Linked DNA regions of Homo sapiens: region 1 is linked to region 2. Evidence: fine-mapped expression QTL. A gene starts in region 2. The other region holds a variant in brackets. All regions are shown on one strand. Distances are from middle to middle.

Region 1 (2,907 bases), 170 kb after region 2:
TATGAACCTCTTTGGCAGCCTTTGTTCTACTCTCACATGTGGCTCTGCCAAGTTTATAAATACTTCCTCTGGATGACAATAAATTTGGTCTCCCCTAATCATTCACTCCACAGATAAAATCTCATTGAGGTTGCAATAGCACTGACACTTAAAGTTAAGTGTTTTCTTGCTTGGTCTTAGCACTCTAGCCAAATGGATTTTGAGGGCCTCCTATTCATGGGTCACAGCTGCTTGACTCAAGGATTTTTGCCTATGCATGCCCTGACAGTCAGATACTAACTCACTTGGATGCCTGCCTCTCACACTGCTCTACTTTATGAAGTCAAGACCATTAATAAAATCCAGTTTACAGAAAGGCCTAGAGAAGGTTATTTCTCTGAACACTTCGCTGTACCTACTTCCATAACAGATGAACTTACCAGATGTAACAGAAGCGGTTCTTCTGTTCTCGTGGAAGATGAAGTTGTCCTTTGTTTTGATGAGTCCTGAAGGACTTAAAGGTAAGAAAACATATTCATAATATATTATCCTTTTCTGCTTTTTCCCTTAATTCTTGCCAGTTGCTAAACGCAGTGCCAGGTATATTAAGACTTTTTTTAAAAGGCATCTTCTTGTTATCACTACTATCAGCATCACAACACTCTTTCCTCTTTTCTGTATCTACTCAGCTACACAAAGCTCACTTGACAGCTTTGTAATTTTTTTTAAAAGTGGTTAATCCAGACTACAATTATCTCAATTTTAGTTTGTTGCCTGAATTGATAATTGATGGATCAATCCTTTTTTTTTCAGTGCAATGAAAATTACTATGTCATTAAAATAATGGAAATATGCTGTGGCAGGGGAAGGGAATCACCTTTGAATTCTATTTTATTTCCCTATTTATTTTTAAATATATGTGTAGAGAGAAGAGTCAGGGAGGCACAAAGGAAAATAAGCAAGAATAAAGGCCACAGGGTCATGAGGAAAGACACAGGTGCCCAGGTGGTGCAGGGAACCTGTTTTTGTCCCTTTTTGTTTTCCTTCTCCTCTGTCATTCCTCTGCTTCTGTGTCCTCCTTATCTCTCCCTCTTTTCTTTTCAGTTTCTCTCAATTTAAAATAAATTAGAACGTAGAATCAAAACGTCATGTTTTATTTTTCAAAGATTATTATTACCAGCTAAATAACATTGGTAATTTTTATTTTGAGTTTCGTACAAATTAGTTATTGATTACTAATTATTTGAGAACAGGATTTTTGTTTGGATTCTTAGCCTGTTGCTTCCACATGCTCTGAGAGGTGTAAATTTACATGGAAAATAAAATATCTTCCTGGTCAGAACAGAAGTCA[T/G]TCATGATGATTTAGCTTATTTCGGTTCTTCCTTTTTTTCCCTTCTCCCCTCCCTCTCTGTCTCTCGTTACTCACACCCAGCTATGTCACTGCGATGACCAGTGAGCCAAACACTCACCTTGGGTTCCTCCTGGGGGAAGTAATAACTCACAGCAACCTATCTCCCTCCGGGGAAGCCACCTGTGACTTTCACTGACACAGGGCTCAGGCAAGTCTCTGTACACAACGTGGTCTTCACACAATGAATCAAGACTGTTGATTGACTGAGGGGTCAGAGGGCCGACAGGCTGGTCGTTGGCTAGAGCACGGTAAAGATGATGGCAACCAGGCTCAGAGACACACAGGGATGGCCACGGAGAGTTAGGCACCAGATTTCCCACTCTCAGGCTCATGGACTTTGCAAGTCCCACTTATCCAGATTCAAACCTGGGCTCCAGCTGTTGAATTTAAGATTCAGAGAGCTTGAGCTTCTCACGGTACATATCTGAGTCTCATTATTTTCATCTTTGAAGCAGATAAGGCTGCCTATCTCACAGGCTTCTTGTGAGCATGCAGGAGGTAAGATACAAGGAGCACCTAGCACAGCACGCAGCAGATGAAAAAGAGCACGGAGAATGGAGGGGAAGAAAAGGACACAGGATAGCCGCCAGGAGCACGCACAAGTTAATTTGGGGCTGTGTGGGAAACTGATGCAAACAAGCCCCCATACATAAACGCACCACAGGGAAAGCTGGGATTCTGTGCTGAGTGAGGTTATTTCCTGAACTTGCTAATTACACAGCACCATCTAGGGGCAGAGCATGCTTCGAACAAATGGTGGTCTTGGCAAGGTCCTCTGACCCTGCGGAATTCCCAGTCCCTTTTTCCCCTTTCCCCTCAGCCCTCTTCTTCCCTCTGCTCCCTTCTCTTCCATGGCATGCCCTTTCTCACCCCACACTTATTCCCTTTTCTTCCTCTATCTACTCTTCCTGGCGCAGTATTTTTTTGCAATGGAGTCCTTAGGGTTTTGGACAAAATAATCTGTGGGAAGTCAAACAATTACTATCCTCAAACAAGCCTTCCTCCTGTGCTCTATGTCACTGATGTCCTTTGGATGGCACCAGAAACTTGGCTTGCTGAGGCTGTGCTGTCTCTGGTCTCGGATGAGGGCCATCATGGTGCCATGGATGCAGGACTGGGTGTTACCACTGCAGGTGGTGAGAAGATGGCAGTGAAGGAGGACACTCTGGTTTCAACTCACATCCTGGGGGGCCACCTTCTCTGATGTGAATTCCACTGTGAATCTTTTATTGTTCTCCAACCAGTGTAAGGACTCTACCCAAAGAACTCACAAGCTAAAGCCAGCAGCAGAGTTTTCACTTAAAATGTTTCTTTAAAAAAAACCAAACCCTCAAAGAGGGAAAGACGATTTTGGCCAAGTCTGCATCTTATGAGACTGAGACTTGCCAATTTTTATTCCCCATTTTAGAAACTGTGATTTTAAAACAATGCTGAATTATTTCTTTCAAAATACATTTACAAAGAGATTTTGGATTCCGTTCAACATTCTTTCCACACCTCCTTAAATCTCTCTCATT
Region 2 (2,907 bases):
TACAGGATTTCCATTGGCCTTGGATGACAGATGGGGCAGAGGCACCCAGGAGAGCACTATTTTGGTTTCCAGCTGGGAACGTGCACTAAGTTTTCCTTAATACCCACAGCACCCAAAAGGCTTTGCTGTAATACACTTTAATGCATGAAACACTCATAAATTATCCTTCGAACTGTTACAACTTCCAACCTGGAACAACTTGGAAAAACCAGCCTAGCAAGCAGGCTCTTTTTTAATCTCTCAAATCACAAGAGAAGAAAAAGTTCAAGCACGAAACACCTTCCTTAAGAATCTCGAAATTTTTTTTGTTTTGTTTTTGTTTTTTTTTTTTTTTTTTTTTTTTTTTTTTTTTTTTTTAGAAGGAGGTTTGTAATTAGAGGGAGCTAAGCTGCTTGTTTCTGCTGGCTCAAAGTTGCAGCTCCCTGACCCCTGAGTCCTCTCTCCCTCCCCTAGATCCTCCTCGCCTGAACTCAAGGCGCTCCCCGCCCTAACCTTCCACGCCCGCTTCTCCCACACCTGGCAGCAGACAGCTGGAGATGAAGCGTGTGACCCAAGTGGCAGGGCTGAACCTTGGCGACCTCTACCTGAGGTTGTCCAACGCGGCTCCGTGGAGGGCCCCGGTACGCCGGACGGACCCCGGCGTTGGCTCGCAGACTTCCTGCGTTAACCCCCGGGGCCCTCAGTCACGACTCCCAGCCCTTCCGAGACGCGCTGAGGGAACTGCCCCAGGTCTAGCGCGCCCCGTTCCGCTCCTCCCCCTACCTGGGGGCCGCGCAGCACTTTCCCTACTCGGCGCTCACCTCAGCCAGCGCGCTCTGCGCTCCCCCCGCGGTGCTGGCCGCCACTCCTCCCGCCCTGGCGCGCCAGCTGCCGGCGCATCCCTCTCCGCGCCCATTCGCTCTCCCTCACTTGCGCGTTATCCACTTCTAGCCCTCGAGCTAGACCCTGGCATGGCCGTGGGCTTCTGCAGGCGCCAGGGCTGCTCCCTGGACTGCAGGCCATCCTGGGACTAGGGACTCCACGACCAGAACTAACGCTGTTCCCTCGGTCCGACTCGTCCTCCCGCGAGGGTCCCGCGCCCCCACACCCACTCGGGACATTTCTCAGGGCTGCTCTTCGGCCTGCGGGAGCCTCGGGGGTAACCAGAGAGCTCGCCAGACCGGTATCCTTGCAAACTCTCCCGCGAAGCCCAGCCACCCCTGCCCGCGCCCGCGCTGCGCCCCTCTCGGGATCGGCTCGGGGCAGCCTGACTCACCGCTGCGCTCCCCTCCGGCTCCCAGCGCTCTCTGCTGTGCCGGAGCGCCGAGCTGCTCTCACACAGGCTTCTTGAATTCTTAGCCCCTCCTCCCGTACTCCTGAGTCACACGCTCCAAATCCTGGCCCCCATCCCTCCCCTCCCCACCACCAGCCCCGCACCTGCTGTGGCTGGGCTGTGGTGCCCGGCTGGAGGGGGTCCTGGGGACTACAGACGGATCGCTCCTGGAGGGCTGGCCAGACCCAGCCAGAGAAGGACTTTAAACCTTCAGAGGTCAAAGGGAAACCCACTGGGGTCTGAGGGGCCGCGCGCGCAAAGCCGGGAGGGGGAGTTTCTGGGGCACCGGCAGGGGTCGTTGGGCCGACTGGCTGGGGCTGGGCGGAGTTGCTCGCAGCTTCCCTCACCTCTCCGCCCTGCCCCCGCGCGTTGCCCTTCGCCAGTGCCTCCCTGGTCTGCCCGGCGTCGCCCTCGGTGCCCCAGGCATCGGCTGCTCCTTTTCTTCGGGGCGCCTTTCCTTATCCCAGGATAGGTGAGCACCCAGGGGGAGCTCCGCGAGGGGCAGGTGCCCAAGCTCCTCTGACAAGGGAAGGCGGCTGCAGAACCAGCTAGAAGGCCCCCAGGCCCGGCAAGTCCAGCATGGGGACAAGGGGCAGAGGACTTCAGGAGTCAGGAGCTAGAGCCGGGACCTTAACTTAAGGCCCTGGGTTCCAGGAACTTCCCGGAGTCCTTGGCCCCTCTGAAACTGTAGGCTGATTTGCGCGACTGTGTGCAATGCTAATATTCTTTTCTGAGCTGAAGGTCCGCAGCTTTCATCAGTTTTGCAAGGGGTCTGTGACCCCAGACTGATATAGCCAGCAAACCCTAGGCCCCCATGCCCCCCTCTCCACACTCCAGGCCCCACACAAATTCTTCCTGACCCTTCAAAATTTCTTGAGTTCCCTCGATTCAGCCTGACAGGAGAGCTTGCCTGACTTTCCCCTGCCCCTCTGCCAGGGCTGTTCCCACCCCAGCATAAAATGAGCAAGGGAGAAATACCCCTGAAGTCAAATTTGTCACCAAATGTGCATCATTAATTGTAGCATTCCAGGGGATTCGTAGCTCTTTGGAAATTTACAGCCCCACTCCCTCCCGTGTTGAGCTTGTCTGTGCCTTCGCTTCTTCCTATAGCAAAGGTGGGTTGGACCCCTACCCTGTATGGATGCCACAGAGGAGAAGTAGGTGTGAGGAGAGTAACAGGGAGGGAAGGTGGGGCACAGAATCTCCCTATTGCTGGTAACACCAGCCAGTGCAACTTAGCAGAAGGGCACCCTCCAGGGAACTGGGATTTAGTGAAGCAGATGATTCCTGTCCTAAGTCTGGGGGTGGTCATTTACCCTTAATGGATGGCACTTGAGCAAGATGAAGCCCTGACTAGGCATTTCCAACTCCCTTGATTCAGATTAGTCTTGAGGTCTTACTTCTTTCTATTTTCACGTTTGCTCCCATAAGAAAGTTCATTCCATTTACACATGCTCTGAGAAGGATGAAATAGGCAAAAAGCCCTGGAATTGGAAGTCAGCCTTAGCTTTGGTGTGACCTTGTTGTTTCCCAGCCTTAGGCTTGTCCACTTCTGACTTGTTCAGATACAGGCTGGTGTATGAACACACTTTGGA

Which allele goes with the higher level. Alleles are on the strand shown, and positions count from the first base shown. SD is a standard deviation of normalised expression in the study named.
In carriers of allele G in region 1, the expression in monocytes after Pam3CSK4 of the gene that starts at base 1,301 in region 2 tends to be higher than with T alone (large effect, 1.7 SD a copy in Quach 2016).

What was found. PIP is the estimated chance that this variant, and not a neighbour inherited with it, causes the effect. A credible set is the group of variants that fine-mapping cannot tell apart.
Region 1: its variant is the best candidate, but not a certain one, in a credible set for the expression of NGF in monocytes after Pam3CSK4 (Quach 2016, PIP 0.80).

The regions. Positions count from the first base shown.
Region 1 is chr1:115,505,261-115,508,167 of GRCh38, forward strand. No RefSeq gene overlaps it. Among named protein-coding and RNA genes, the nearest start is that of VANGL1, 140 kb to the right of the region's middle. The variant T/G (reference allele first, on the strand shown) is at 1,331.
Region 2 is chr1:115,336,949-115,339,855 of GRCh38, forward strand. NGF (nerve growth factor) reads right to left here and starts at 1,301. Exons shown (of 3, transcript NM_002506.3): 1 at 1,256-1,301. All of the region lies in intron 1 of NGF-AS1 (NGF antisense RNA 1), which reads left to right.